4 linked regions of the Homo sapiens genome follow. The protein of the gene in region 1 interacts with the protein of each later gene in a biochemical or structural test. Each region holds a gene or a part of one and is shown in the gene's direction. Other genes may lie near its edges. The genes, in order: CHUK, BCL10, BCL3 and IRF7.

Region 1 (7,021 bases):
TTATTTCATTGGATCCTAATAACAATTCTGTGAAGCAGGGACTGTTAGTCATCCAATTAGATTACTGAGAGAGGTTAAATAACTTGGTAGATCACATGCCTAGTTAAGTGGTGGCACTCAGACTTGAAATATTTTTGTGTTATTACAGAGCCCAAGGTCCTCACCACTACCCTGTCTACAGCCTCGTAAGGATATTGTTGTCTTTCCTTTTTAAATTTCTCTACCATTTAATACTTAATCTGTCTTATTATTTTGCAGATAATACATAAAATAATTGATCTGGGATATGCCAAAGATGTTGATCAAGGAAGTCTGTGTACATCTTTTGTGGGAACACTGCAGTATCTGGTGAGACCTGTTTTGTTTCTTTGAATTTAAGTGTGTATAGGATTCTCTTATTTCTGAAGATCATGAATATAGTAGGTCAAAAATAAAGTAGCTTTTCCCATACAGTGTTGGTGTTTAAAGCATTTTCTCTTTTGAAGGCCCCAGAGCTCTTTGAGAATAAGCCTTACACAGCCACTGTTGATTATTGGAGCTTTGGGACCATGGTATTTGAATGTATTGCTGGATATAGGCCTTTTTTGCATCATCTGCAGCCATTTACCTGGTAAGAAATGGATGAGAACTTGGGCATGCTTAATGGGAATGGAAATTTTTTCATTTGTCTTTTTTTTTCTTTCTTTAATTGTTTAATTGCCTTTGAAATATACAATTAAATATAATTAAATGGCAAGAAATCTTAATTTGTGAGAATCACTTTGTCAACTGAGGTAGCTTTTGATTTTATAGGCATGAGAAGATTAAGAAGAAGGATCCAAAGTGTATATTTGCATGTGAAGAGATGTCAGGAGAAGTTCGGTTTAGTAGCCATTTACCTCAACCAAATAGCCTTTGTAGGTAAGTATATTTTAGTTAAGGAAGTTTGCCTCAGTTTCTCCAGAGTTGTAAAGGAGCAGGAGAGTAGTTGTCTGTTTCAAGTTGCATTATCCAGTAGAACTTTCTGTGATGATGTAGAAACCTTCTATATTTCTGTTGGCCACATGAGGTTATTGACTACTTGACATGTAGCTAGTTTGGCTAGAGAACGAATTTTGAATAAATAGTAAATATAAATAGCCACTTGGGACTAGTGGCTACCATTTTGGACAGCACAGGTCTGGTGGAAACAAGAACTGCCATTTAACTGTTTGACATATGTCCTAAGAAGGCTCTTAGGATAATGAAGTAAATGGGTTATTTGCAGAATGGATTTGGACTCATCCGTCAGAGTTGTCAGTAACTAACATATGTGGAGTTTTGAGTAGTTTTTGATGGAAAAAAGTTTGTCCCCTGTCATTTCATGAATTTGAAAGTAATTTATGAAATGGTACAGACAAGTGATGTGGGAAAGAAAATGGACAACCTGCAAAATTACCTTTCTAACAGTATAAAGGGAAATTGGAACATAATGATTTGATTTTCACCCTATTTTGTATGTTTTCTAGTTTAGTAGTAGAACCCATGGAAAACTGGCTACAGTTGATGTTGAATTGGGACCCTCAGCAGAGAGGAGGACCTGTTGACCTTACTTTGAAGCAGCCAAGATGTTTTGTATTAATGGATCACATTTTGAATTTGAAGGTTAGTCTTAATGGGTCTACTGCATAAGACCAGCATTGAAAGTAACAAGTTTATTTGGAAAATTAGCATAAATACAGTTTAATAATCTTTTCCTGTTGCTTATTTATTTATTTATTTTGAGACAGGGTCTCACTCTGTCACCTAGGCTGGAGTGCAGTGGCATGTTTTTGGCTCACTGCAACCTGCGCCTCCCAGGTTCAAGCGATTCTCTTGCCTCAGCCTCCCGAGTAGTTGGGACTAAAGGTGTGCACCACCATGCCCAGCTAATTTTTGTATTTTTAGTAGAGGTAGGGTTTCGCTATGTTGTCCAGGCTGGTCTCGCACTCCTGACCTCAGGTGATCTGCCCGCCTCCACCTCCCAAAGTGGGATTACAGGCGTGAGCCATTGCGTCCAGCCCTGATGCTTATTTGAAAAAGAAAATTATATTCTTAGAGCTGATTTTTTAAAAAGTTTATTTAGCAAGCTGTCTCAGTTTGCTTCTCTGTGGTCTTTGTTAATTACTCCTTTGAAGCAACTTTTTTATTTACCTTTTCCCATGTTGTTGCCATTATCCTCGATTCATTTATGTCTAGTCATACTGGATTTGATTTGGTAAGGAAGGTTCCTATCTGCCTTTCATGGCTCTGCACTTACTCCTTAACCTATAGTTCATTCAATATGTACTACCTATCTCATCTTCTGAAAATGCTTTTTTATTCTTCTGCCCAAGAAACTAACATAGTTCTTTTTTTTTTTTTTTTTAACAAGTCAAGTGTAAACTGATCTGCTTGGTTTTTTGGGGGGGCTTTCCCTAACCAAGTTTTGCCTTGTACCTGCTTCTCTTAACCTTTACCTCATACAAGACCAGCTTGTCACTGCTCCTTATGCCTCAAACCCGTTATCTACCTTTGTGCTTTGACAGATGCTATCCTTCTGCCTGGATATCCATTTCTGTGTATCTTCTCACCTACACTGGCATATCTTTAAGAGCTTTTCTTTAAATGGTCTCTGCCACAAAATTTGTCATTTAAAGGCTATATTCTCTTTCTCGTCTTCCATTCATGCATCTTCATATAGACTGTTGTCTTCTTCAATGTTGGGATTGTTTTACTTCTTTTATTAACAATCACCCACCCTACCCTTCCTAACCATGGCATTCTGTACAGAGCAGGGCATGTATCAGGTTCTTAGTAAATTATTTATTGATATGAATGAGAGCTATAGATAGTTCTATTATGCAGTGTACCCAGAAACAACTCTCATCAATAGTCTTTACATTTGTATTGATTGTTTGTAGTATACAGGTTTCTAAAATTGAAATGAGAAATTATAATCATGTAATGTTGGAGTACATGGCGAGATAGCTCACTTTAGTCTGCAACCCCTGAGCTCAAGTGATTCTCCTGCTTCAGCCTCCAGAGTAAATGGGACTACAGGTGTGCGCCACCTCTCCTGCCTAATTTTTAAATTTTTGGTAGAAATGGGGTCTCACTGTGTTGAGCAGGTTGGTTTTGAACTCCTGGCCTCAAGTAATCCTCCTACCTCGACTTCCCAAAGTGCTGAGATTACAGATGTGGGCTACTGTGCCCGACCTTGGCATACTTTATTAAATAGAAACTTGAGGCCATGTGGATGTCATTCTTGGCTAACACTGAAAAGATACCTGGCTTCTTCTTGATTTGGTTTCCTTCTAATGTGCCAAAGAATAAATTATCCCTCAGTGTGTTAGGAAAGCAGGGCTTTAGTTCTGTGTTGCCTCTGAAACATTTCAGCTGTGAATGAACCACATCTCGCATTTGTTTCATACTTGTCATAGGAATCATAGCATAGTTTCTGCTCTGAAGGGCATCTGTGAGCCTCTTGTTATAGGGCACGGGGAAAGAGTCCACATTATGGAGTTTATAGTTTACAGACTTTAATTCAGTTTGCAGCACCACTATTTACCTATCTGTGAACCTGAGCAAATGTCTCTCTATCTCAAGGACAGTAATATCTTCCTCAAAGCATCAATATTATTATGAGGTTATGCAGAATAAGGTATGTATAAGGTACTAGTTATAGTAGTTCAAGAAGCTTCAAGGATGCTTGTTAGACATGATAATAGGACTGAATTTTGAAGAATGAGAGTTTTTAGGGAAAGGGTGAGGGCGGGAGAGATTTATAGGCAGCAGAGCATCATGAGCAAAAGTACAGAAGCATGAACTGCAAAACAGCTTGGTGTTACTGTAGGACATTTTCCCAAAATGTTTATATATATTGTACAAGAAAGGAATGATGTCTGTTTGATTTTCACTTAAAAAAGGAAGCAACAAAACAGTTACTGAAATATTTCCCTTTTGAAAAAATAGCTTAGCAAGTCTGATTGTATGCATATTTTCCAACTGTTTATTATGAACATCTTTAGATATGTAGAAGAGTTGAAAGAAGTGTACTGAACCTACCACTAAAAATAATGATGAAACAGTAGCATTTAATTATTATTTTTTTTTGCCTCCTCTTTCACGCCCCTAAATGTAACTATATTCTGAGTCTCTTCTTGGTTCTCTCTTTTTCCATTACATTTCCTTTCTTTTATTAGGCAGCCTCTTCAACTGTATAGCTTTACTTATAAACTACATATGGCTAACTCCTAAAGTTATTTATCTCTGTAGCTGTGACTCTTCTGCCAAGGACTTATAACTGCTGTATAACTGTATAACTACCTGGCTGTTCCACTGGCACTTACAACTTAATTTATTAAAAACTGAACATATTTGTTCTATCCATTAAATCTACTTCTTTTTTTTTTTTTTTTTTTTTTGATATGGAGCCTCACTCTGTCTCACGATCTCAACTCACTGCAACCTACACCTCCTGGGTTCAAGTGATTCTCGTGCCTCAGCCTCCCGAGTAGCTGGGATTACAGGTGCCTGCCACCGTGTCCAGCTAATTTTTATATTTTTGGTAGAAATGGGGTTTCACCATGTTGGCCAGGCTGGTCTTGACACCCTGACCTCAGGTGATCTGCTCACCTCGGCCTTCCAAAGTGCTGGGATTACAGGCATGAGCCACTGCACCTGGCCCATTAAATCTACCTCTATAGATTTCCTACACTTCTTATTTGCACTGTCACCTTTCCAGTTACCCAGGTGGGAAACTTTGGATGTGTTGACTCTTCCTTTCTCTTCAATCGATATATCCAATTATTTTATCAAATTTATCTTTTGAATATCTTAACAATTTTGAGCTTGCCAGGTTCTCAATTTAGAAAGGCTTGCATAGTTTTCTTTCACTTATTGAATAAAGTCCAGACCCTTTCATTGGTACTCAAAACCTATCTTGGTTTCATATCAACTTACACTCCTGGACTTATCTCTTACTAATGCCCTGAGAGGCCATCATTTTAGGTACATTTGAACTGGATTAATTGTATTCTCTGATTATGCCCATCCCTTTCTACTTTTCTGCTTCTGCTCACCTTGTTTTCTGCCTAAAGGAACTCTTTTCAGTCTTTTCCCATTTCAGTCTTTCATTTCAAAGTTTAGCTCAAGTAGTGCCTCCTTTATGAAGTGCCTGCTTCCTACTGCCAAGTGTATGATACTTTACACTGATTATAACACCTATCACATTTTGCCTGGTACCTTAGTTCTCTTAGTATATCTTAATATCTTCTGTTTGACTATAACTGTATGGAAGGCAAGGATCATAAGGTACTCAGTTTGTATACCCACTACTACCACCACAACACACTTAATAGTATGTACCAATAGTATGTACCTACCAATAGTAGGTACTCATTAAATATTATAGTGAGCAAAAAGATAAATTTAGGTTGTATTTCCTCTTCTTTCTTTTGCTTCCTTCTGGCCTGGAGCTTTGGTAGTGAGATGCCATGATGACATACTCTAATATCCTGTGTAAAAGTAGATGTCCATTATAGGATTTTCTATTGCTATAAGTGGCAGCTGTCATAGTGTGAAATCTGCCTAAATTGGGAAGGCATGGAAAGTCTCAGGTAGTATAATTGTATTGCAAATCCGTATCAGTTTTGAAGATTTCCCTACTCCCCTTTTAAACATAAAGATTTATATTAAAGAAAAGTCTCTTAATAAGAGAAATACTGGCAATTGTGTTATGACATTTGGAATTCACATGAAAAGGATCAGCTTCAGGTTATAAAAACAGTTTGGTATTTCTTTTTTAAAATTTTGTTGATACAGGTGTGGTGGCTCATGCCTGTAATCCCAGCACTTTGGGAGGTGGAGGCAGGCAGATCACTTGAGGTCTGGAGTTCGAGACCAGCCTGGCCAACATGGTGAAACCCCATCTCTACTAAGAATACAAAAATTAGCCAGGGATGGTGGTGCATGCCTGTAGTCCCAGCTACACGGGAGGCTGAGGCAGAAGAGTTGCTTGAACCTGGGAGGTGGAGGCTGCATTGAACCAAGATCGCACCACTGCACTCCAGCCTGGGTGACAGAGAGAGACTCTGTCTCAAAAACAAACAAACAAAATTGTTAATACGCTTTTAATTTTTTTTTTTTTTTTTGAGATAAGAGTCTTGTTCTATCACCCAGGCTAGAGTACCATGGTGCAATCTCCACTCACTGCAACTTTCACCTCCCAGACTCAAGTGATTCTCTCGTGCCTCAGCCTCCCGCGTAGTTGGAATTACAGGTGTGCGCCATCATGGCCAACTAATTTTTTGTGTGTTTTTAGTAGAGACAGGGTTTTGCCATGTTGGCCAGGATGTTCTCAAACTCCTGTCCTCAAGTGATCTACCTGTCTTGGCCTCCCAAAGGGCTGGGATTACAGGTGTGAGCCACCGCGCCCAGCCTAATTTTTTAAATTGACAAATAATTATACAAATTAATGGGGTAAATAGTGATGTTTCAATACATGCACTGTGTAGTGATCAGATTAGGGTAATTAGCATATCCATCAGCTAAAACATAATTTCTCTGTGTTGGGAATATTCAGTATCCCTTTCTTTTTTCTTTTTTTTTCTTTTTCTTCTTTCTTTTTTTTTTTTTTTGAGACAAAGTCTCACTCTGTCGCCTGGAGTGCAGTGGCGCGATCTTGGCTCACTGCAGCCTTGATCTCCCAGGTTCAGGCGATTCTCCTGCCTCAGCCTTCTGAGTAGCTGGGATTATAGGCGTTGTGCCACCAAGCCCAGCTAATTTTTGTGTTTTTAGTAGAGACAAGGTTTCACCATGTTGGCCAGGCTGGTCTTGAACTCCTGACCTTAAGTGATCTACTTGTCTTGTAATCCCAAAGTGCTGGGATTACAGGCGTGAGCCACCACGCCCAGCCTCAGTTTAGTATTTCTGTAGCACCACTTATTTGGGCATCTGTGTTAGGATTTGTAAGTGGAAATAATAGTGGGCCTTCAAACTAAAAAGTGTACAGTAGAAAAAATAATCAACAAAACGAAAAAGC
Region 2 (7,021 bases), on another chromosome or scaffold:
AAGAGGATGTAATTAGATTAGTACATGGAAATGTCAGATCAGCAATTACATCTGCAAAGTCAAAGATCAGAAGAGAGATCTGAGCTAGAAATGTAAGTGTGGAATTGAATGATTTTACCTAGAAAGCTGTGAGCTAGAAGAGAAAAATGGTGTAAAACCCTTTAAAGAGAAGAATTTTAAAAAGTGAATTGTTAGCTTGAAAGTAGGGTAACAACAACAACAAGAAAATGATTGAAAAGTTGTATCCACAGGGATGGGAAGAAAACCAGGAGAGTGTGGTATTCATGTAACAATTTTCTTGTTTCAGGGAGGGAGTAGTCAACTGTGTTTATGCAGCTGAAAAATGAAATGAAGACTGAAAATATTTGGCAATAAGGGGGTCATTGGTGACTTCGAGAAGAATACTGGGGCAGGATGGAAATGTCTGGGAATGAATTGGGAAATGAGGTGAAAGAAGTGGAGTCCTGGTGTATAGAAAGATGAAGTGTATACACAAGGTGCTACAAGGACAGAGGACGGGGTGCCTAACTCATTCTGGGGAGTTAGGTAAACCTTTCCAAAGAAGATGACCACTGACCTAAATCTTAAAGGACGAATAGGGGCTTTAGGGTCTGATAAAAGCAGACAAAAAATACGTAAGGAAATGTAGAGAGACAGATAGTTTTAGGTAGAGCATAAATTTTCAGGACAAAGGTAGTGATAGATTAAGCTGGAGAGGTAGGTAGGAGCCATATTATCAATGAACCTTGTCTTCCATAATTAGTTATTATTGAGTACTTACTGTGTACAGAGACTATGCGTGGCCTTCATATATAGTATTCCCATTTAGTCCTCCTTGATGTCCTGTGAGTTAAGTTTTTAATCCTTATTTTATCAATAACATACCTGGAGCTTGGAGTGGTGAAGTAACTTGGCCCAGCTCTCACAAGGGTGAGTACTAGATTCAAGATTTGCACTGAGGTTGATCCAACTTTAGAGCCATGCCCTTAACTTTTCTACTCTTCTGCCACGTAAAGGAACTTTATCCTTTAAGACAGGGCAGAACATTGTTTTTAATTTTTTTTCTAAATTAACAAAATTTCAATATTAGAATTTGCTGGGCACAGTGGCCCACACCTATAATCCCAACAACTCAGGAGGATAAGGTGGGAGGATCACTTAAGGCCAGGAGTTCAAGACCAGCCTAGGTAATGTAGCAAAGATCCCTTCTCTACAAAAAAAAAAAAAAAAAATTAAAAATTAGCCGGGCATGGTGGCTCACACCTGTAGTCCTAGCTACTCAAGAGGCTAAGATGGGGATCACTTGAGTCTAGGGATTCCAGGCTGCAGTGAGCTATGATCAAGCCACTGCACTCCAGCCTAGGTGACAGAGTGAGATCCTTAAAAAAAATTTAGTAAAATTCATATAATACTCCAGATTTCCATTTTCTCCTGAAGGAGAAATGTTGAGGAGGGGGAAGGAAGTAGTAAGTGCAGCTAGGTTTCTATTGTTAATAGTCCATGCCAGATATGATAAGGACCAGGTCCTGGACATAGTTATTTGCTCACTCTGTGCTTTTCCTGTATTTGACCTATAATCTTTTTTTTCTGGGCCCGATCACATTGTTTTATAATTATTACCTGTGATATGTATTCCCAGCTAGACCATGAGCCCTTTGCATGTAGGATTCAAATCTTGTTCATCTTTGTATACTCAGTGCTCAGCACTCGGCATATTAGGAATTTAGATTTGTAAAATACTTGTCATGTGAATAAACAAGTAAATGTGGAACTTCGTAGACCAAGAACCACAGGAACCCTTCACCTAGCCTACTTTCCTGCCATTACCTTTGTCATTATTACTAACATATATTGATCACTTACTATGTACCAAGCGCTTTTCTAAGCACTTTGCATATCTTTATTCCTCATATAACAGTCAGCTGAGGAAACAAGCACAGAGGAGTTAATTACTTGCCCAAGATCATATATCTAGTAAATAGAGGAGCTAAAATACAGTCACCGGTACCAAATTATTAATGCCATTTATTGAGATCAACATGGATTTTCTACTAATTAAGCTCTTAGGCACTTCTCAAATCTAGGTTTGCTTTTTTGTGGTGTCCTTTTTCTTTATTTCTTTCATTTTTCGAACACTCCCTATTCCCCACACATCTTTCCATCTCCCTTCCACCAAGACTGATTCACTGAGTTAGAGTGTAGTCTTTCCAGCTGACCCCAAAGACAGATACATTATGGGCTCTTTCAGTTTAGGGTTTTGTTTTTTGTCTTTAACAGTTTAAGGAAATGGAGTAATTAATAACAAACATGAGAAAGTTACAGACTGTGAGACCTCTCACTAAGTTATTGGTCCTGACTAATTCTGCATTCCTTGCCAACTGATAGCTAAAATGTACAGTAGTGTTTGCCCTCATCTTTACTCCCGAAGATGGCCCTCAACAGACCTCCCTGTTTCCAAGGACCCAGGCCCTCTAGATTCAGCTGGTCCCTCTTCACAACAGCCTGGTCTTGGTTTTTAGGTTTGAAGGTGAGATCAAAGCAGTGAGGAATGTCTAGGACCTACTTGTGTCTACTTGGACTTTCATCTTAATTAGCATGCATTTTAGAAGGCCTGAGCCTCCTGACTTTAGAACATTGTCTCACACCAGCTAAGACTGCCAACTAATAGTCACGTATGTGATTTTCTTAGATGTTAAAAATAACATTGAACCATATTTTATGTCTTTTAGGCCTTAGAAAATTTACGTGTATACCTGTGTGAGAAAATCATAGCTGAGAGACATTTTGATCATCTACGTGCAAAAAAAATACTCAGTAGAGAAGACACTGAAGAAATTTCTTGTCGAACATCAAGTAGAAAAAGGGCTGGAAAATTGTTAGACTACTTACAGGAAAACCCAAAAGGTCTGGACACCCTTGTTGAATCTATTCGGCGAGAAAAAACACAGAACTTCCTGATACAGAAGATTACAGATGAAGTGCTGAAACTTAGAAATATAAAACTAGAACATCTGAAAGGTAAGATATCTTAATTATCTAAGAGCTAATTTAAATGTAATAATGCTTTTAAAAAATGCAGAGCAGGCCAGGTGCCTGCACTTTAGGAGGCCAAGGCAGGAGGATTGCTTGAGGTCAGGAGTTTTGAGACCAGCCTGGGCAACATAGCGAGACTTTGTCTCTACAAAAAATTAAAAAATTAGCCAGGCATGATGGTGCATACCTGTGTTTCCAGCTACTCAGGAGGCTGAGGTGGGAGGATCACTTAAGCCTGGGACATTGAGGCTATAGTGAGCCATGATTGTGCTACTGCACTCCAGTCTGGGCAACAGAGCAAGACCCTGTCTCAGAAAAGCAAAACAAAAACAGAAATGATCATTTTGCTTTCAAAAAGTTTAAACTTCAAAATTATATTCAATTTGCACTTATTTTACCTTATTTGACACTATTACATTGAAAAAGTGGAATATCTCTCAATATCCTGTATTTGTATTCATTTAATACCATTTATAGAAAACTATTATGAAATCCCTGCATACATAAGGATTTGTTTCTAAAGTCAGTAGAATGTAAAGTTAATCTATTCAAGAGTAAGCTCTGAAAATACTGTACATCACACATAAAGAACAGTATTTAGGCAAAGTATTGTAAAAGTCCAACTCTGCTAGTTTTTCTTATGATCACCAGTTGATCACAAGATGAAGTAATTGGCATATGTTTATAGGAATCACGTTGCATAAAATATTCATGACTTTAAACTAGTCTGGCAAGATGTGAAAGCATGGAAACAGATTAAGAGAATAGCAGATTCACCTGTCCCATTTCACTCTCACTCCAGAATATACACTCACTGATTGGAATATTGTGTGGAATTGCCTACACAATTTAAATCCCCAACCCCCTCCTGCCTCTGTTCCTCACTGTCTCTCTCCAGAGCACATAAATGTGCATGTGATGTTCTACAGCTCTTCTAGGCATTAGGGATACAGAAAAGAATAATTTAGGGCTCTGCCCTTAAGGAACTCATAGTCTATAAGTGTCCCCTTGCTGGGACACATTACAAGTTTTCCCTTTTGAGCCATATCTAAGAAAGTAGTTTGTATAGCATGGAATAGACATGCTGACTGTACTGTGAGGTTGAAAAACTAGTGGAAGAAGTGACATGTAAGTGCCCTTTATAGACTATGCAGGTTTTGCCTAAAAATTGTCAACTCAGGGTTTCTGTGCCTGTAGGTTGAATATTTGCTAAGCCTAACAGAAGGGTAAATTGTGTTTGTGTTTATTCTTTCAATCCTCTGGATAATGGTTAACTATACCCTTTGGATATCATAAAATTCTTTGATGGTATCTAAGTTGTTTTCTGCTGTAGCAATACCTGAGACTGGGTAACTTTTAAAGAAAAGAAATGTATTCATTTCTTACAGTTCTGGAGGCTGGTTAAGTCCAAGACCATGGCGCCAGCATCTGGCAAGGGTCATGCATGGTGGAAGGGCAGAAGATGGAAGAGCAAGGGAGGGCAAGAGTGTGAAAGAGAAGAAAAAGGAGTCGAACTCCCAAAATAACTAACCCATTCCCGTGATAATGGCATTAGTCCAGGGCAGAGCCCTCATGACCCTGTTGCCTCCCAAAGGCCTCAGCTCCTAACACTGCTGCAGTGGCAACCAAGTTTCCAACATGTGAACTTTTGGCGGATACATTCGTACCACAGCTAATGGGAACAACCACTGTCATTTGAGTAAACTGTGAGGTTGAGAAACAGGACATTATCTATTGAATTGTAGTTCTCACTTTCCCACAAAGTAGTCCTGGAATGTTGGACATGACTTAACTGTCCTGTGCCTTTTTTTTCTCTTTTTTTTTTTTTTTTTTTGAGACGGAGTCTTGCTCTTGTCACCCAGGCTGGAGTGCAATGGCATGATCTCAGCTCACTGCAACCTCTGCCTCCCAGGTTCAAGCGATTCTCCTACTTCAGCCTCCTGAGTAGCTGCGATTGCAGGCACCTGCCACCACGCCTGGCTAATTTCTGTATTTTTAGTAGAGATGGGGTTTCGCCATGTTGGCCAGGCTGATCTCAAACTCCTGACCTCATGATCTGCCCACTTCGGCCTCCCAAAGTGCTGGGATTACAGGCGTGAGCCACCATGCCCCGCCCTTTTTTCTCGTCTTTAATAATAAGAGACTATCCTAGGTGACCTCTAAAATTCCTTTTAGTTCTAATATCCTATTATTCAAGAATTAGCCATTGTCATTGATCAACAGATAGAATTTTAGCATCTGCCGTTTACATTTTTTTATTAGCTAATATTTTTTGTACCAGAATACTAAAGAATATTTATTGTGAAAGCTATTTCTTATTTTATAAAAAATTTTAGGTGGTTAAGTTTATATGTACGCTGTACCTTAAATGAGAATTACAGCATGTCGTTTAACTTCCACGAGACTATTTTGTTATATAGAAAATGCAAATAATAGTATACTTCATGGTTGTTGAGAAAAGCAAATTAGATTTGAAATAGATTATGACGGAAATTACAAGTTGCTATTTAAATTTTGATTGTGGGGTAACTAGCTTGTAATCTTTAACAAGTCACAAGATGGACAGTGACTCCATTTTTTTAGTTACTTTTTCATTTACATCTGAATAATTTTATTGTAGGACTAAAATGTAGCAGTTGTGAACCTTTTCCAGATGGAGCCACGAACAACCTCTCCAGATCAAATTCAGATGAGAGTAATTTCTCTGAAAAACTGAGGGCATCCACTGTCATGTACCATCCAGAAGGAGAATCCAGCACGACGCCCTTTTTTTCTACTAATTCTTCTCTGAATTTGCCTGTTCTAGAAGTAGGCAGAACTGAAAATACCATCTTCTCTTCAACTACACTTCCCAGACCTGGGGACCCAGGGGCTCCTCCTTTGCCACCAGATCTACAGTTAGAAGAAGAAGGAACTTGTGCAAACTCTAGTGAGATGTTTCTTCCCTTAAGATCACGTACTGTTTCACGACAATGACACTTTATTGCCTTTTAATTTTTAATGATGACAAAAAATGTTTTAAAGAATATGACTTTTTATAAAATGGCTGTAATCATTTGTTTACATTTGATGCATGTCTTTTAAAATGCAATGTAAGCATACTTTGTAAATAGGATTTTTAGAATTAAAAAAGCATACTTCTAGGATAGCTAACTGTAAATCATGTTGATCATGTACTTTTTAGTAATTTCTTTTTTTCCTTTTTAAGGTCTTTCAGTACTTTTTTAAATATTTTCTATTTTAAGACTGATTTTAATAGGGAATATATCTCTATTTGAGAATAGACCCTTACTAGGAAGAACGTTTTTTCCTCAGTGCATTTGTGCTAGAAATTTTCAAGAGTCTAATAGTCTTTGCCAGTCATTCAGCAGCAAATTTTCAGCATTAAGCTGTTCCTGTTCAGTAATAAAACCGGTCACTGATGGGAAAACTGCCAATATAGAAAAATAAAAATCTCTTTTCCACTCCATTGTCGTATAGGCATGTAAACAGCCTCTTTTTGATACTGGAGGAACACTTGATGGAGTGTGAGCCACCTAAGATCTCGGTTTGCCAAAATTCATTTCTAATTAACCTTACTAATTATACTACTTTGTTAGGATTTTCACATTCTTGGCTTAATCATTTTCATTCCTAAAGAAAAATATCTTGGCCTAAACCTCAGTTATTACATGTAATTTGATGAGGTATTTTTTCCTTTTTTCTTTTTTTTTTTTTTTTTTTTTTGAGACAGTCTTGCTCTATCGCCCAGGCTGGAGTGCAGTGGCGCATTCTAGGCTCACTGCAACTTCTGCCTCCCATGCTTACGTGATCCTCTCACCTCAGCCTCTCAAGTAATATAGCTGAGACTACAAGTGTGTGCCACCATGCCTCACTAATTTTTGTATTATTTTTGTAGAGACGGTGTTTTGCCATGTTGGCCAGGCTGGTCTTGAACTCCTGGACTCAAGCAACCTACCCAGCGTGGCCTCCCAAAGTGCTGGGATTA
Region 3 (7,373 bases), on another chromosome or scaffold:
GTTGAATTCTATTTTCCCCAATGAAGCAGGTCCTGCTATTGAAAACACAGGATATTTGATGAGGACAATAATAATATATAATGTTATATTATTATTATTATTATTATTATTATTATTATTATTATAAAACTAATAGCAGCTAAATTGCATCAAGAGCCTTCTATACATCAGACCCCATGGGACAGAGTCATATTTTCTTGATGTGATCCACTCTACAGATGAGGAAGCTGAGGCTCCACGAGGTTAAGTAACTGCCCGGAAGTCACAAAGCTAACGATCAGGAGACAGGACTTGGACCCAGGCCTCAATTCAAAACAAAGTAGGACAAGGAAGCCAGATGCGGTGGCTCACGCCTGTAATCCCAGCACTTTGGGAGACCGAGGAGGGAGGTTCGCTTGAGCCCAGGAGTTCGAGAACACCCTGGGCAACACAGTGAGACCCCCTGAGTCTACAAATTGTTTTTTTTATTAGCCAGTCATTGCGGCACATGCCTGTAGTCCCACCTACTTGGGAGGTTGAGGCAGGAGGATCATTTGAGTCCAGGAGTTCAAGGCTACAGTGAGCTATGATCTCACCACTGCACTTCAGCCTGGGAGACAGAGCCAGATCTTGTCTCAAAAAAAAAGCAGGACAAGACCCAGTAATTGAGCCAGATGGGAACTTAGGCCCTGACCAGCCCTACTCTCTCCTCTTAGAAAGGGAAATTGAGGCCCCTGAGAGCAAGAAAGCTGCCTCAAGCCTACAGACTTCCAGATGGAATTTCGTTTCCCTCTCAGGACTTTGAGCAGGTAAATTCCTGGCCTTTCCTCCCCCAGGATGGGTTGGGGAAAAAGAAACAGCAGCTGGGGAGGAGATCTGAACAGGTACAAAGGGCGGCCTGCATGAGGGGAAAGTGGTTAGACACCAAGCAGAACTTCCTGGCCTCCTCTGGGAAGTTTCTAAGACTCATCCAGGGGCTGCCCCTGCGGGTGGGGGCCCTCCAGAGGCCAAGGCCCAGAGAAAGGAGACCCTAGTCCTTTCCGCCTGGGGTGCAAGGAGCCGGGGGAGGGTGGGGGTGGCCATCCTGGTTCCGCATCCTCCGTTCCCGACATTGGAGGGAGGCTGCTGTGGGAGCTGGGACTTTCCTGAGAGCAGAAGATTCTGGGAAATTAGAGACAGCTGCAGGGCGGGGCTGCCTCCCAGCCTCCCTTCCCTTCCCTCCCCTTGGTCCCTGCTGGCTCCGGAGGCACGCCTCTCCACCCCTCCACCCCACCAGCTCCTCCTCCCCTAGTCCATGCCTTCCACCCTCGGACCCTCAGATCTTTTCCCCTGAGCCTCTTTCTTCTCCCTCAGATCTGGCCTCTACCCTCAGACTCTCTCCAAATCTTCTTTCCTCAGACCCTTCTTTCCCCTCCAACTCTCTCCTCCTCCCTCAGAGCTGCGTCCCCTCACTTAGTGCTTCTCAGACTTCCTCAGACTGTGCCCTCTCCCTCAGATACTCTCCCCTCCCCTCAGACCCTCACCTCCTCACTCAGACCCTCACTTCCTCCTTCAGACCCTCACCTCCTCCCTCAGACCCTTACCTCCTCCTTCAAACCCTCACCTATTCTCTCAAACCCTCACCTCCTTCCTCAGATGCTTATCTCCTCCTTCAGACCCTCACCTCCTCCCTCAGACCCCCACCTCCTCCTTCAGAGCCTCACCTCCTCTCAGACCCTCACCTCCTCCCTCCAAACCTCACCTCCACCTTCAGACCCTTACCTCCTCCTTTAGACCCTCACCTCCTCTCTCAAACCCTCACCTCCTTCCTCACATGCTTATCTCCTCCTTCAGACTCTCACCTCCTCCCTCAGACCCCCACCTCCTTCAGACCCTCGTCTCCTCTCTCAGACCCTCACCTCCTCCCTTAGCCCCTCATCTCCTCCCCCCGAACCTCACCTCCACCTTCAGACCCTCACCTCCTCCTTCAGACCCTCACCTCCTCTCTCAAACCCTCGCCTCCTTCCTCAGACTCTTATCTCCTCCTTCAGACCCTTGTCTCCTCCCTCAGACCTTCACCTCCTCCCTCCAAACCTCGCCTCCACCCTCAGACCCTTATTTCCTCCATCAGACCCTTACCTCCTCCAACAGACCCTGTCCTCCTCCTTCAGATCCTCTCCCCCTCCTCCCACTAAACCATCTACTTCTCTCTCAGACCTATCTTCCTTCTTCAGATCCTCCTCCTTCTGACCCTTTTATCCCTCTTCCAACCTCAGAGAACCATCAGCACCCTCTCTTCCAGCAGCACCGTCTCTCCCAGCCCTTCGAAGCTCCCACCGGACCCATCACATCTTCTCCCCTCTACAGTCCTGCTAGGTTGGAACCACTGCACCAGCTGCCCTGGGATGCCAGGAGTGGGACAGGCTTGGGTGTCCTTCCCACCCTACCTCTGAGGGTCCCCACCCTAAGCCTCGCCCCTCCAAACCTCAGCTTTCCTTTCTGTGCATTGGGATAGTGCTCCACACCCCTCTCCTGTGTCTGAGGGTCCCCAGGGGTGGGGTTGGATGGGCAGGGAACACAGCCCCCAGCCTGTCCAACCGAATTCCTCCCCTCTTCCCTTGCTGTGGCCCCCACAACACCAGCAGGCAGGGGTTGCCATTGGTCCCATTTTCCAGAAGAACAAACTGAGTCTCAAGGCAGGGGATGGCTTGTCTGAGGTCCCACCGGGAGCAAGGGGTGGAGGTGGAATTAACACAGGTCTGTGCTCGGGATGTTTCGCCATGAAGGGGGATAAGGGAGATCCAGAGAGAGGTCGAAAGGAAGGGAAGGGGTGAGGCCTCTCCACACAGCCACTTCTCACATCCTGGGTTAACGATCCACTCGGGTGGGGCCCGAGTCCGGCCAAAGTCCCTTCCCGGGGCCCCAATACCCACTTTCAAGGTCCCAGGGGACACAGAGACAGCAACAGAGATGGGGAGACAGAGACAGAGGGCGGGGCAGGAGACAACCAGAGGGAGGTCAGGCAAGTTTCGAAGACAGAAGGAGACCGGGGGAGAGAACCAGAGAGACGCCGCGTGCCCCCTGGGCAAGTCCGGGGTGCAGCCCCCATGCCCCGCCCCCTGTGTCCCCAAAGCCTCCCTCTCCGCCTCCTGTGACTCAGTGACCCGGACTCAACCCCAGCGGCTGCCCCGCCCCCAGGGAAATCCGGGAAAGCCCCGGACCTTCGGGGCCCCACCCCGGGGCGGGGAGAGGGAGAGGAGGGGAGGAGACGGGGAAGAGTCCCGCCTCCCTCCTCCCTCCCTCCCATCTCCAGCCTGAGTCATGCCCCCAACCCGCCTAGCCTGTTCCCCACCCATCAACCCCTCCTCGAGGTGGGAGGGGAAGTCGGGGGGAAGCCAAACTGCTCCCCGCTCCTGCAGCACCGGCCTCGGTCGCGCTGACTCTGGCCTGGTGTCCGTGTCTCTTGCTATCTCTCTTTCTCTCAAGATCTCTGCGCCTGTCTCCATGTCTCTTTCTCTCTGTGCACCTAGGATTTTCCGAGCACCCACCCCGGTGCCCCGCGGGCCCCGGCTGGGGGCAGGGCCCCCAACGAGTGCAGAGACACAATCAGTGGAGCGCTCCCCACCCTCACCCCACCCCCAGCCCCTTTAGACCCACAGCTGATGAGGCACGTGGAGTGGCAGAGATGGAAGAGGGGAGGGAGAGGAATCGTTCCTGGCCGCCTGCCGAGTGCCAGTCCCTGCCCCGGGTGCGTCTCTTCACTCCCACTAAGGAGGAAACGGCTCAGAGAGGGGAAGTGTTTGGCCAAGGTCACCCAGCGAGTAAGTGGGAACCGAGATTCCAAACCCCGTCCCAGAGATGCCAAGGCCTCCTGAGAGACAGAGAAGCAGACAGCAACTGAGAGGCAGAGAGATGGTGACAGACACAAAGAGACAAAAGAGAGAGACAGAGACGGAACAGAGCACACAGAGACAAACGCGGGGTTGCGGAGAGAAACACCTACTCAGACAGGAGAACCAGAGAGACAGTTACAGACTCAGAGATAGAGATGTTGAGAGATAGGGCCAGAAAGACAAAAACAGAGGCAGAGAGAGCGGCCCTTGGCAGCAGGGGTGGGGACACCCCCCCACCCCCCGACCCCGCCTCCTCTCCCCCCACCCCTCCTTTCCTCTCCCTCCCCCGCCGAGGCCTGGCTGCCCCAGGCGCCGCGGGCCGGGAGGGGGCAAGCGGGGCGCGGCGCGGGCGGGGCGCAGGGCAGGCTGCACCTCAGAGCGGCGGGAGCAGCGGCGGGTCCAGGAAACCCCTGGGGCGTACGGGTGGCCCCGGGGGGGCCGGGGGCGGGGAGGCGGGCGGCCGGCACCGCCCCGGCCGACAAAAGTCCCTTCAGTTCAGCCGGCTGCAGGGGAAGTCCCGGCGCCCGGCGAAACCACCCTCCCGTGCAGCCGAGCCCAGCCGCTCTCCGGCCGCCGTCCCCGGCGGCCCCATGCCCCGATGCCCCGCGGGGGCCATGGACGAGGGGCCCGTGGACCTGCGCACCCGGCCCAAGGCCGCCGGACTCCCGGGCGCCGCGCTGCCGCTCCGCAAGCGCCCGCTGCGCGCGCCCTCCCCGGAGCCCGCCGCTCCCCGCGGCGCTGCGGGCCTTGTCGTCCCCCTGGACCCTCTGCGCGGCGGCTGCGACCTGCCGGCGGTCCCCGGGCCCCCCCACGGCCTGGCCCGGCCGGAGGCGCTTTACTACCCCGGTGAGTGGCCCCCGAGGGTCCGGGCCGGGTGGGATCCACACAGAGCATAGGGTCACCAGAGCCAGGAGGCAGAGCTTGAGGCACAAACCGGTGTCTCTCCAGGGACCTGGGGGACAAGAGGATATAAGCCCAGGTTCCAAGGATATAGATATGAGATCATCGGGGAGCCAGTAAGCTGTGCCTTGGGATCTGGGGATTTGGGGACCCTGGGGGGCAAAGCCCAGGGGCTGAGTGACGTGGGGGGGGGGGGGCCAGGGACAATGCCCAGTGGTACAAATATGGGGGTGTCAGGGAATCAGGGCACAGAGCCTGGTATCCTAGGGGCAAGAAAGTACAAGCTCTTAAGCCAGATGTGTAGCGTTATGAGGAAGCTGAGCTGGGCTGGAGAAACTGGGGTTCCCTGTATCCTGATATTATTAGAATCAAAGGGAGTCAGGGTAACAGAGACTGGGGTTCTAAGGAGACAGATACTGAGGATCTCAGGATGTCACAATCTCAGGAACCAAGATATCTGGAGACATGGGCATTATGAAAACAGAGATGGGGTTCTGAGCACCCCAATATCTGGGATCACAAGGATCCAAGGAAATGAACCAGAGCTCCAGGGACCCAGATACCAGGGGGTCTTGAGGACCCAGGAGAACAGAGACCCGGGTTTCTGGGTACTCAGTTATGTGGGGCCACAAGTGATCAGGGTCCTATTTGAGGTCAAGATCAGGTGGGCAGAAGGGATCAGGGGACTGAGGATCCTAAGATTGGGTAATTCTGAGACTTTGGGTAATTTAGAGGCAGGATGAAAATTTCAGGGGTCTCCAGACAGAAAGCCTCAAGGCCTCAAGGCCTGGTATTGGAGATACGAGGACCTGGAAACTTGGGAGTTCAAGAACAGAGGGCCCACAAGGATCAGCAGATGACGAAGACCACACACTCTTCTCTCCATCCTATCTCCATCCCTGATCTCAAGAAGGGGTGTCCTCTACCACAGCTGTGGCCACGTCACCATCCCCAATTGACCCCCAAAGCTGCAGAGAGCCGTTCTACAGAGCCCCAAAACTTTAGGTAGTTTCTGCACCCTCCACCCCATCAGCGTGACAGCTGGAGAGCCTCAAGCTATGTGCATCAGGAGTTCTGCCACGGCCTCCCAGCTTTCCTATTCCAAGAGTGAGAAAGCAGGCCTCAGTTTTCCCCGTCTGTGTGATGGGTTGGTATGGATTTGCCTGCTGCCATGGTCCCCTCGCCTTTGTTTGTTTTTGTTTTTGTTTTTTGAGACAGAGTTTTGTTTTGCTCTGTCGCCCAGGCTGGAGTGCATTGGCGTGATCTCGGCTCACTGCAACCTCCGCCTCCCAAGTTCAGGGGATTCTTGTGCCTCAGCCTCCCGAGTAGCTGGGATTACAGGCATGCACCACCACACCTGGCTAATTTTTGTATTTTTAGTAGAGACAGGGTTTCACCATGTTGCCCAGACTGGTATTGAACTCCTGACCTCAGGTGATCCGCCCGCCTCGGCCTCCCAAAGTATTGGTATTAGAGGCATGAGCCACAGCGCCCGGCCTGCCGTGGCCCCTTTTTAAACAGTTTGATCTAAAATTACCCATGCGTGGTGGTCAGCATCTGTAATCCCAGCTACCTGGGAGGTTGAGGCAGGAGAATCGCTTGAACCTGGGAGGCAGAGGTTGCAGTGGGGCAAGATCGTGCCACTGCACTCCAGTCTGGGCAACAGAGCGAGACTACATCTCAAAAACAATTTGAACAGGCTTCTGGTAACACCTCCTCTCTGCCTCCACTCTCCCCAAACCCACTCTACATTTATCCCACACCCTGCACCCAGCAATTCATCAGCCACAAAATCACTCTGCAGACAGTCCCTGGGGTCCCCTGCTAGGTGATGATGGGTGCACCCTCTGTTCTTAAGGGACCCTTTGTCTGATTGGAGATTGAGGTCAGAAGATAAGTGACAATGAGGGTGACCAGCCCTAGAGGGAGAGGAAGCTGCCAGAGCCCAGAGGAGGGACGTGGAAGGGGGTTTGTTTTAGGCCCTGAGGACCCTGTATGGGATGCAAAAGGGACCCAGGAGAAAGGGCAGGTGACACCACAGGAGCAAAGTTTTAGAAGTGGGGGGCGGGTTGAGGGTCTGTGGGTGTGGCCTCACCCATGTCCCTTCTCTGTCCTCCATTGTCCAGGAGCCTTACTGCCTTTGTACCCCACTCGGGCCATGGGCTCCCCGTTTCCTCTGGTGAACCTGCCTACACCCCTATACCCCATGATGTGCCCCATGGAACACCCCCTTTCTGCTGACATCGCCATGGCCACCCGTGCAGATGAGGACGGAGACACGTGAGTGACAGTCCCCTATTAAGGGGAGGGGTGGTTGGGAAGACCAGCCGTCCATAACACAGGGCCACTCAGCTCCCAGTGGACCTGAGTCAGAACTCGGTCTCCACCACAGGCTGTGTGACCTTGAGTAAGGCCCTTCCCTGCTCTGAGCCTCAGTTTCCTCCTCTGAAGAATGGGCACCTTGAGAGCATTTACCTCCTAGGCCACTATTTTTGTTTGGTTTTTGTTTTTGTTTTTTTGAGACAGGGTCTCACTCTGTCGCCCAGGCTGGAGTGCAGTGGCACGATCTCAGCTCACTGCAACCTCTGCCCCCCAAGTTCAAGTGAGTCTCATGCCACAGCC
Region 4 (7,807 bases), on another chromosome or scaffold:
ACACAGGCTGTCTGCAAACCTTCCTGGCACCAAGGCACCTGGGGCCACCAAACAGTACATGGGAGGCAGAAATGCAGACCCCGGGAGCCCCCACTTCCTAAATGTTTGCTTACCCGTCAAGACAAGCCTTGTGCAAATGGGACTCAGTATCTTTGGGCCACTGGACTCATTCATTAGTAAGGGACCCACAGGGGTGTTACTGATTGTGATGCTGGGACAAGGGACTGTCCTAGGCAGGCAGGGACGCCCGGCCACCAGCGGGACTGGGCCCCTCCTCAGCCAACCCTGCCCTTGATGGGGAGTCAGAGGGGCCAGGCTGGGGCCATCCACCCCAGCCCCACGACGTGCCCTCCCTTCCGCCATCCCTGAAGCCATCTCCCCTCGTCCTGCGTCCCGGACCCATCTACGCTGAGGACGGAGACCGCGGCATCAACCAGCCCATCATCTACAGCATCTTTAGGGGTGAGTGGGGCCCAGCCCTCAACAATGCCCTGTACCCCCTCTGTCCCTGTCTCCATCCCCACCTTGGGCAGAGCTGGCTGGGTCCCTGGGCCTCAGGGGGCCGGGGCTGAGCACTTCCATCATCCTCCCAGGAAACGTGAATGGTACATTCATCATCCACCCAGACTCGGGCAACCTCACCGTGGCCAGGAGTGTCCCCAGCCCCATGACCTTCCTTCTGCTGGTGAAGGTGAGGTGGGCACCTGCATGGGGGGCAGGGCAGAGGGGGAAGGGTGGAAGGTAGGGCGGGGGGTCAGGGCTGGGGGGCCGGGGCAGGGCCCCCGCCAAGTCTGCACCTGCCTTTCCTGAGCCCCAGCCTTCAGCGCCAGCTCCACCTTCAACCCCACTAGTCACTGCTGCCTCCCCCGCCTCCAGGGCCAACAGGCCGACCTTGCCCGCTACTCAGTGACCCAGGTCACCGTGGAGGCTGTGGCTGCGGCCGGGAGCCCGCCCCGCTTCCCCCAGAGACTGTATCGTGGCACCGTGGCGCGTGGCGCTGGAGCGGGCGTTGTGGTCAAGGATGCAGCTGCCCCTTCTCAGCCTCTGAGGATCCAGGCTCAGGACCCGGAGTTCTCGGTAGAGAGTGCATCCAAGGCCTCCCCTCTGTGGGTGGGTCAGGGCTGTACGTGGGAGGCAGCCTGGCCGGGGACTCAATGAGACCCTGTCCAGGACCTCAACTCGGCCATCACATATCGAATTACCAACCACTCACACTTCCGGATGGAGGGAGAGGTTGTGCTGACCACCACCACACTGGCACAGGCGGGAGCCTTCTACGCAGAGGTGCGGGGCAGGGCAGGCGGGCATCTCCAAGGGTGTGGGGCTTAAAGATGTGTCTAGGAGGGACAAGCCCCTTCCTGCCCCAGGTTGAGGCCCACAACACGGTGACCTCTGGCACCGCAACCACAGTCATTGAGATACAAGTTTCCGAACAGGAGCCCCCCTCCACAGGTAAGCCCCCCTCCACAGGTGAGCCCCCAGGGTTCTCCAAATAAGCCCCTTCGGTGGCTCCTTTCCCGCGGTAGGTGTGCAAGGGGCGGGCAGAGGCAAGCCCAAGCACTGTTCCCGGCCCCCAGATGTCCCCCCATCCCCAGAGGCTGGAGGAACAACTGGGCCCTGGACCAGCACCACTTCCGAGGTCCCCAGACCCCCTGAGCCCTCCCAGGGACCCTCCACGACCAGCTCTGGGGGAGGCACAGGCCCTCATCCACCCTCTGGCACAACTCTGAGGCCACCAACCTCGTCCACACCCGGGGGGCCCCCGGGTGCAGAAAACAGCACCTCCCACCAACCAGCCACTCCCGGTGGGGACACAGCACAGACCCCAAAGCCAGGAACCTCTCAGCCGATGCCCCCCGGTGTGGGAACCAGCACCTCCCACCAACCAGCCACACCCAGTGGGGGCACAGCACAGACCCCAGAGCCAGGAACCTCTCAGCCGATGCCCCCCAGTATGGGAACCAGCACCTCCCACCAACCAGCCACACCCGGTGGGGGCACAGCACAGACCCCAGAGGCAGGAACCTCTCAGCCGATGCCCCCCGGTATGGGAACCAGCACCTCCCACCAACCAACCACACCCGGTGGGGGCACAGCACAGACCCCAGAGCCAGGAACCTCTCAGCCGATGCCCCTCAGCAAGAGCACCCCATCTTCAGGTAGCACCCACTCTGTTGCCTTCCCTCCCTGACTCCGGTCATTGGCTGGTATGGGAAACGCTGTAGGAAGGGTCCACCCCAGGCTGACCTGGCCTGACCATGAAATCCCAAAGAGGAGTCTGTTTGGGACTGACAGACACAGACAGGCCCAAGGCCCCCAGTGAGGTAACCTGTGATGTGTGTAGGACAGAGGCCAGATGTGGGGTCCAGCGAATCCCACGATTCCCACGGCTGCCGCTCACCCTGCAAGTCCCTGCACCTCTTGTGAGCTCCTGTGAGCAGCTTGGCCTCCCGGGGGGGAGGGGGTGGGCAGGGTCTCGATGGGACACACAGGCCCCTTGAGCCAGGGTCAGCAGAGCCTGAGATTTGGGAGACAGCCCAGGCCTGGGTGGAACCCAAGTGTCCCAAGCCTGGCACAGGTTGGCATGGGAAATGCCTGGGGCACTCAACAGTGCGGGGATGATGACGTTTTCCACTGCGATGCCAGGTGGCGGCCCCTCGGAGGACAAGCGCTTCTCGGTGGTGGATATGGCGGCCCTGGGCGGGGTGCTGGGTGCGCTGCTGCTGCTGGCTCTCCTTGGCCTCGCCGTCCTTGTCCACAAGCACTATGGCCCCCGGCTCAAGTGCTGCTGTGGCAAAGCTCCGGTGAGGCCCAGGATGGAGAACAGGGCAGGCGACCAGGCAGGAAGTGGGGGACGGGGGACAGGAGAGGGGAGGGCAGAGGGACAGATGTGGAGACGGAGGGGTGTCCAGCGTGGAATGAGGGTGTGCAGGGCCAAGGCTGCAGAGACCCAGGGACCCCGCTGACGCCTCGACTCCCGCCTGCAGGAGCCCCAGCCCCAAGGCTTTGACAACCAGGCGTTCCTCCCTGACCACAAGGCCAACTGGGCGCCCGTCCCCAGCCCCACGCACGACCCCAAGCCCGCGGAGGCACCGATGCCCGCAGAGCCCGCACCCCCCGGCCCTGCCTCCCCAGGCGGTGCCCCTGAGCCCCCCGCAGCGGCCCGAGCTGGCGGAAGCCCCACGGCGGTGAGGTCCATCCTGACCAAGGAGCGGCGGCCGGAGGGCGGGTACAAGGCTGTCTGGTTTGGCGAGGACATCGGGACGGAGGCAGACGTGGTCGTTCTCAACGCGCCCACCCTGGACGTGGATGGCGCCAGTGACTCCGGCAGCGGCGATGAGGGCGAGGGCGCGGGGAGGGGTGGGGGTCCCTACGATGCGCCCGGTGGTGATGACTCCTACATCTAAGTGGCCCCTCCACCCTCTCCCCCAGCCGCACGGGCACTGGAGGTCTCGCTCCCCCAGCCTCCGACCCGAGGCAGAATAAAGCAAGGCTCCCGAAACCCAGGCCATGGCGTGGGGCAGGCGCGCGGGTCCATGGGGGTCCCATTCACTCAGTCCCCTGTCGTCATTAGCGCTTGAGCCCAGGTGTGCAGATGAGGCGGTGGGTCTGGCCACGCTGTCCCCACCCCAAGGCTGCAGCACTTCCCGTAAACCACCTGCAGTGCCCGCCGCCTTCCCGAGGCTCTGTGCCAGCTAGTCTGGGAAGTTCCTCTCCCGCTCTAACCACAGCCCGAGGGGGGCTCCCCTCCCCCGACCTGCACCGGAGATCTCAGGCACCCGGCTCATCTCAGACCTCCCGCTCCCGACCCTACACAGAGATTGCCTGGGGAGGCTGAGGAGCCGATGCAAACCCCCAAGGCGACGCACTTGGGAGCCGGTGGTCTCAAACACCTGCCGGGGGTCCTAGTCCCCTTCTGAAATCTACATGCTTGGGTTGGAGCGCAGCAGTAAACACCCTGCCCAGTGACCTGGACTGAGGCGCGCTGGGGGTGGGTGCGCCGTGTGGCCTGAGCAGGAGCCAGACCAGGAGGCCTAGGGGTGAGAGACACATTCCCCTCGCTGCTCCCAAAGCCAGAGCCCAGGCTGGGCGCCCATGCCCAGAACCATCAAGGGATCCCTTGCGGCTTGTCAGCACTTTCCCTAATGGAAATACACCATTAATTCCTTTCCAAATGTTTTAATTGTGAGAGTATCTGATATTCTTGACTGAACAATGTAAAAAACCCAAAGGGGGCTGCGCACGGCGGCTCTCGCCTAAATCCCAGCACTTTGGGAGGCCGAGGTGGGCAGATCACCTGAGGTCGGGAGTTCGACACCAGCCTGACCAACATAGAGAAACCCCGTCTCTACTAAAAATACAAAATTAGCCGGGCGTGGTGGTTCATGCCTGTAATCCCAGCTACTCGGGAGGCTTAGGTAGGAGAATCACTTGAACCCGGGAGGCGGAGGTTGTGGTGGGCCAAGATTGTGCCACCGCACTCCAGCCTGGGTAACAAAAGCGAAACTCCATCTCAAAAAAAGAAACGCAAACGGTGCAGCTGCCCCTTTTTCGAGGCACGTCCACCTCCCATTACCCACTTCCTTTTTTTTTTGAGACTGAGTCTTGCTCTGTCCCCTGGGCTGTAGTGGAGTGGCTCCATCTCGGCTCACTGCAGCCACTCCCAACGCCCTCCACTCCTCCCTACTCCGCGCTGGCCGGGGCGGGGTTCCGCTGGTCGCATCCAATAATAAGAACAGGCGGCGCGCGCCCTTCCCGGAAACTCCCGCCTGGCCACCATAAAAGCGCCGGCCCTCCGCTTCCCCGCGAGACGAAACTTCCCGTCCCGGCGGCTCTGGCACCCAGGTACTGGGGACCCCAGACCCACGCGGTGCAGGCCGGGAGCGAGAGCCTCCGTGGGGGCTCCGTGACCCCGGAGGGGTAGAGCCAAGAGCTGGGGGAGCCTGAGAGATGAGGGTCGGGCGGGGAGGGAGGCGGAGGCGGAGGCGGGGTTCCGCGGAGCTGAGAACCGGACGGGGTGGGATCGAGGAGGGTGCGAAGCGCCACTGTTTAGGTTTCGCTTTCCCGGGAGCCTGACCCGCCCCTGACGTCGCCTTTCCCGTCTCCGCAGGGTCCGGCCTGCGCCTTCCCGCCAGGCCTGGACACTGGTTCAACACCTGTGACTTCATGTGTGCGCGCCGGCCACACCTGCAGTCACACCTGTAGCCCCCTCTGCCAAGAGATCCATACCGAGGCAGCGTCGGTGGCTACAAGCCCTCAGTCCACACCTGTGGACACCTGTGACACCTGGCCACACGACCTGTGGCCGCGGCCTGGCGTCTGCTGCGACAGGAGCCCTTACCTCCCCTGTTATAACACCTGACCGCCACCTAACTGCCCCTGCAGAAGGAGCAATGGCCTTGGCTCCTGAGAGGTAAGAGCCCGGCCCACCCTCTCCAGATGCCAGTCCCCGAGCGCCCTGCAGCCGGCCCTGACTCTCCGCGGCCGGGCACCCGCAGGGCAGCCCCACGCGTGCTGTTCGGAGAGTGGCTCCTTGGAGAGATCAGCAGCGGCTGCTATGAGGGGCTGCAGTGGCTGGACGAGGCCCGCACCTGTTTCCGCGTGCCCTGGAAGCACTTCGCGCGCAAGGACCTGAGCGAGGCCGACGCGCGCATCTTCAAGGTGGGGACCCCAGCCCCGCCCCGCCCCGGGTGGGAGAGCCCGCCTAGGACCCCGCGGGCCCGGCACACGTGTTCTGTCCCCCTCTTCAGGCCTGGGCTGTGGCCCGCGGCAGGTGGCCGCCTAGCAGCAGGGGAGGTGGCCCGCCCCCCGAGGCTGAGACTGCGGAGCGCGCCGGCTGGAAAACCAACTTCCGCTGCGCACTGCGCAGCACGCGTCGCTTCGTGATGCTGCGGGATAACTCGGGGGACCCGGCCGACCCGCACAAGGTGTACGCGCTCAGCCGGGAGCTGTGCTGGCGAGGTGAGCGACGCCGGCTGCCAAGGGCGTTGGCATTCGTCCTGCTTGGGCAAAGGGGAACATTCTCTGGGTCAGATTTGTGGTTTTAGAAGCTGTTCTGGGAGAGGCTGCCAGCAGGCCCAGGACAGGTGGAGAGCCACATCCCCACCTCCTCAGGCCACAGCCTAAGGGTTCACAGCCAGGAAGCTGGTGGGGGCTACACCAGGCTCTCCTTGTATCTCTCACTCTGGTGTCGGGGCCTAACGCCTGCCCCATTCTCTCTCAGAAGGCCCAGGCACGGACCAGACTGAGGCAGAGGCCCCCGCAGCTGTCCCACCACCACAGGTACCCTTCTCTCTGCCTGCCTCTCCTCCTGCCAGGCCGCGGAGCTGCTTACGTTCACCCTGACTTTTCCCTGCAGGGTGGGCCCCCAGGGCCATTCCTGGCACACACACATGCTGGACTCCAAGCCCCAGGCCCCCTCCCTGCCCCAGCTGGTGACAAGGGGGACCTCCTGCTCCAGGCAGTGCAACAGAGCTGCCTGGCAGACCATCTGCTGACAGCGTCATGGGGGGCAGATCCAGTCCCAACCAAGGCTCCTGGAGAGGGACAAGAAGGGCTTCCCCTGACTGGGGCCTGTGCTGGAGGTGTGGGCGTGCCCGGGGAGGGGGGGAGCGCGGGAGGGGCCAGTGCACCTGGACGGACACTTTAGAAGGGGGCTGGGGATTGGGGAGCTGGAGAATTAGGAGGGGACCACCGTTCCCACTGTCCTCCCCTCCTCAGGCCCAGGGCTCCCTGCTGGGGAGCTGTACGGGTGGGCAGTAGAGACGACCCCCAGCCCCGGGCCCCAGCCCGCGGCACTAACGACAGGTGAGAGGGGTAGGGGTTGGGAGGCCTGGGGCACAGGGAGAGGCTAGGGATGAGGTGCCAGCACAGGATTCCCTTCCGGATGCAGGCGAGGCCGCGGCCCCAGAGTCCCCGCACCAGGCAGAGCCGTACCTGTCACCCTCCCCAAGCGCCTGCACCGCGGTGCAAGGTGAGTGCATCCCAGGAAGGGGCAGCCTGTCCCCGCCCACCCCCGTCACTCACGGCTTGTCCCCGCCCACCCATCACTCACATCCTGTCCCCGCCCACCCCCGTCACTCACATCCTGTCCCCGCCCACCCCCGTCACTCACAGCCTGTCCCCGCCCACCCCCGTCACTCACAGCTTGGTCTCCACACAGAGCCCAGCCCAGGGGCGCTGGACGTGACCATCATGTACAAGGGCCGCACGGTGCTGCAGAAGGTGGTGGGACACCCGAGCTGCACGTTCCTATACGGCCCCCCAGACCCAGCTGTCCGGGCCACAGACCCCCAGCAGGTAGCATTCCCCAGCCCTGCCGAGCTCCCGGACCAGAAGCAGCTGCGCTACACGGAGGAACTGCTGCGGCACGTGGCCCCTGGGTTGCACCTGGAGCTTCGGGGGCCACAGCTGTGGGCCCGGCGCATGGGCAAGTGCAAGGTGTACTGGGAGGTGGGCGGACCCCCAGGCTCCGCCAGCCCCTCCACCCCAGCCTGCCTGCTGCCTCGGAACTGTGACACCCCCATCTTCGACTTCAGAGTCTTCTTCCAAGGTCAGTGAGGCCCTTGCCTGGGGGGCTGTCTCCAGGGGTCCTTGGGAGCACCTGCCTGCCAGGTACTCAGCAGAGTCCCCTTCTTCAGAGCTGGTGGAATTCCGGGCACGGCAGCGCCGTGGCTCCCCACGCTATACCATCTACCTGGGCTTCGGGCAGGACCTGTCAGCTGGGAGGCCCAAGGAGAAGAGCCTGGTCCTGGTGAAGGTGAGACCAGAGCCTCAAGGAGGGGAGGCCATGTGCTCAGGCCCACTG

What was found.
Region 2: the proteins of CHUK (region 1) and BCL10 form a complex in vitro, tested with the Homo sapiens proteins (2 studies listed by BioGRID, with this or other methods).
Region 3: of the proteins of CHUK (region 1) and BCL3, one has a biochemical effect on the other in vitro, tested with the Homo sapiens proteins (one study listed by BioGRID).
Region 4: of the proteins of CHUK (region 1) and IRF7, one has a biochemical effect on the other in vitro, tested with the Homo sapiens proteins (one study listed by IntAct).

What each region holds. Positions count from the first base shown.
Region 1 is NC_000010.11:100,212,597-100,219,617, reverse strand, and holds part of CHUK (inhibitor of nuclear factor kappa-B kinase subunit alpha), read left to right. Parts: intron 1-258; coding exon 259-348; intron 349-485; coding exon 486-610; intron 611-792; coding exon 793-900; intron 901-1,487; coding exon 1,488-1,623; intron 1,624-7,021.
Region 2 is NC_000001.11:85,266,615-85,273,635, reverse strand, and holds part of BCL10 (B-cell lymphoma/leukemia 10), read left to right. Parts: intron 1-2,729; coding exon 2,730-3,018; intron 3,019-5,653; coding exon 5,654-6,009; 3' UTR 6,010-7,021. UniProt on the Homo sapiens protein: Plays a key role in both adaptive and innate immune signaling by bridging CARD domain-containing proteins to immune activation.
Region 3 is NC_000019.10:44,744,350-44,751,722, forward strand, and holds the start of BCL3 (B-cell lymphoma 3 protein), read left to right. Parts: upstream 1-4,358; 5' UTR 4,359-4,441; coding exon 4,442-4,697; intron 4,698-6,877; coding exon 6,878-7,031; intron 7,032-7,373. UniProt on the Homo sapiens protein: Contributes to the regulation of transcriptional activation of NF-kappa-B target genes. In the cytoplasm, inhibits the nuclear translocation of the NF-kappa-B p50 subunit.
Region 4 is NC_000011.10:612,951-620,757, reverse strand, and holds the start of IRF7 (interferon regulatory factor 7), read left to right. Parts: upstream 1-4,807; 5' UTR 4,808-4,845; intron 4,846-5,110; 5' UTR 5,111-5,393; coding exon 5,394-5,413; exon of another isoform or gene 5,414-5,439; coding exon of another isoform or gene 5,440-5,498; coding exon 5,499-5,661; intron 5,662-5,750; coding exon 5,751-5,961; intron 5,962-6,223; coding exon 6,224-6,282; intron 6,283-6,358; coding exon 6,359-6,584; intron 6,585-6,720; coding exon 6,721-6,807; intron 6,808-6,892; coding exon 6,893-6,973; intron 6,974-7,162; coding exon 7,163-7,552; intron 7,553-7,640; coding exon 7,641-7,759; intron 7,760-7,807. Other genes in the region: CDHR5 (cadherin-related family member 5 isoform 1 precursor), read left to right, coding at 372-462, 594-691, 877-1,077, 1,171-1,284, 1,368-1,452, 1,578-2,159, 2,647-2,804, 2,988-3,407.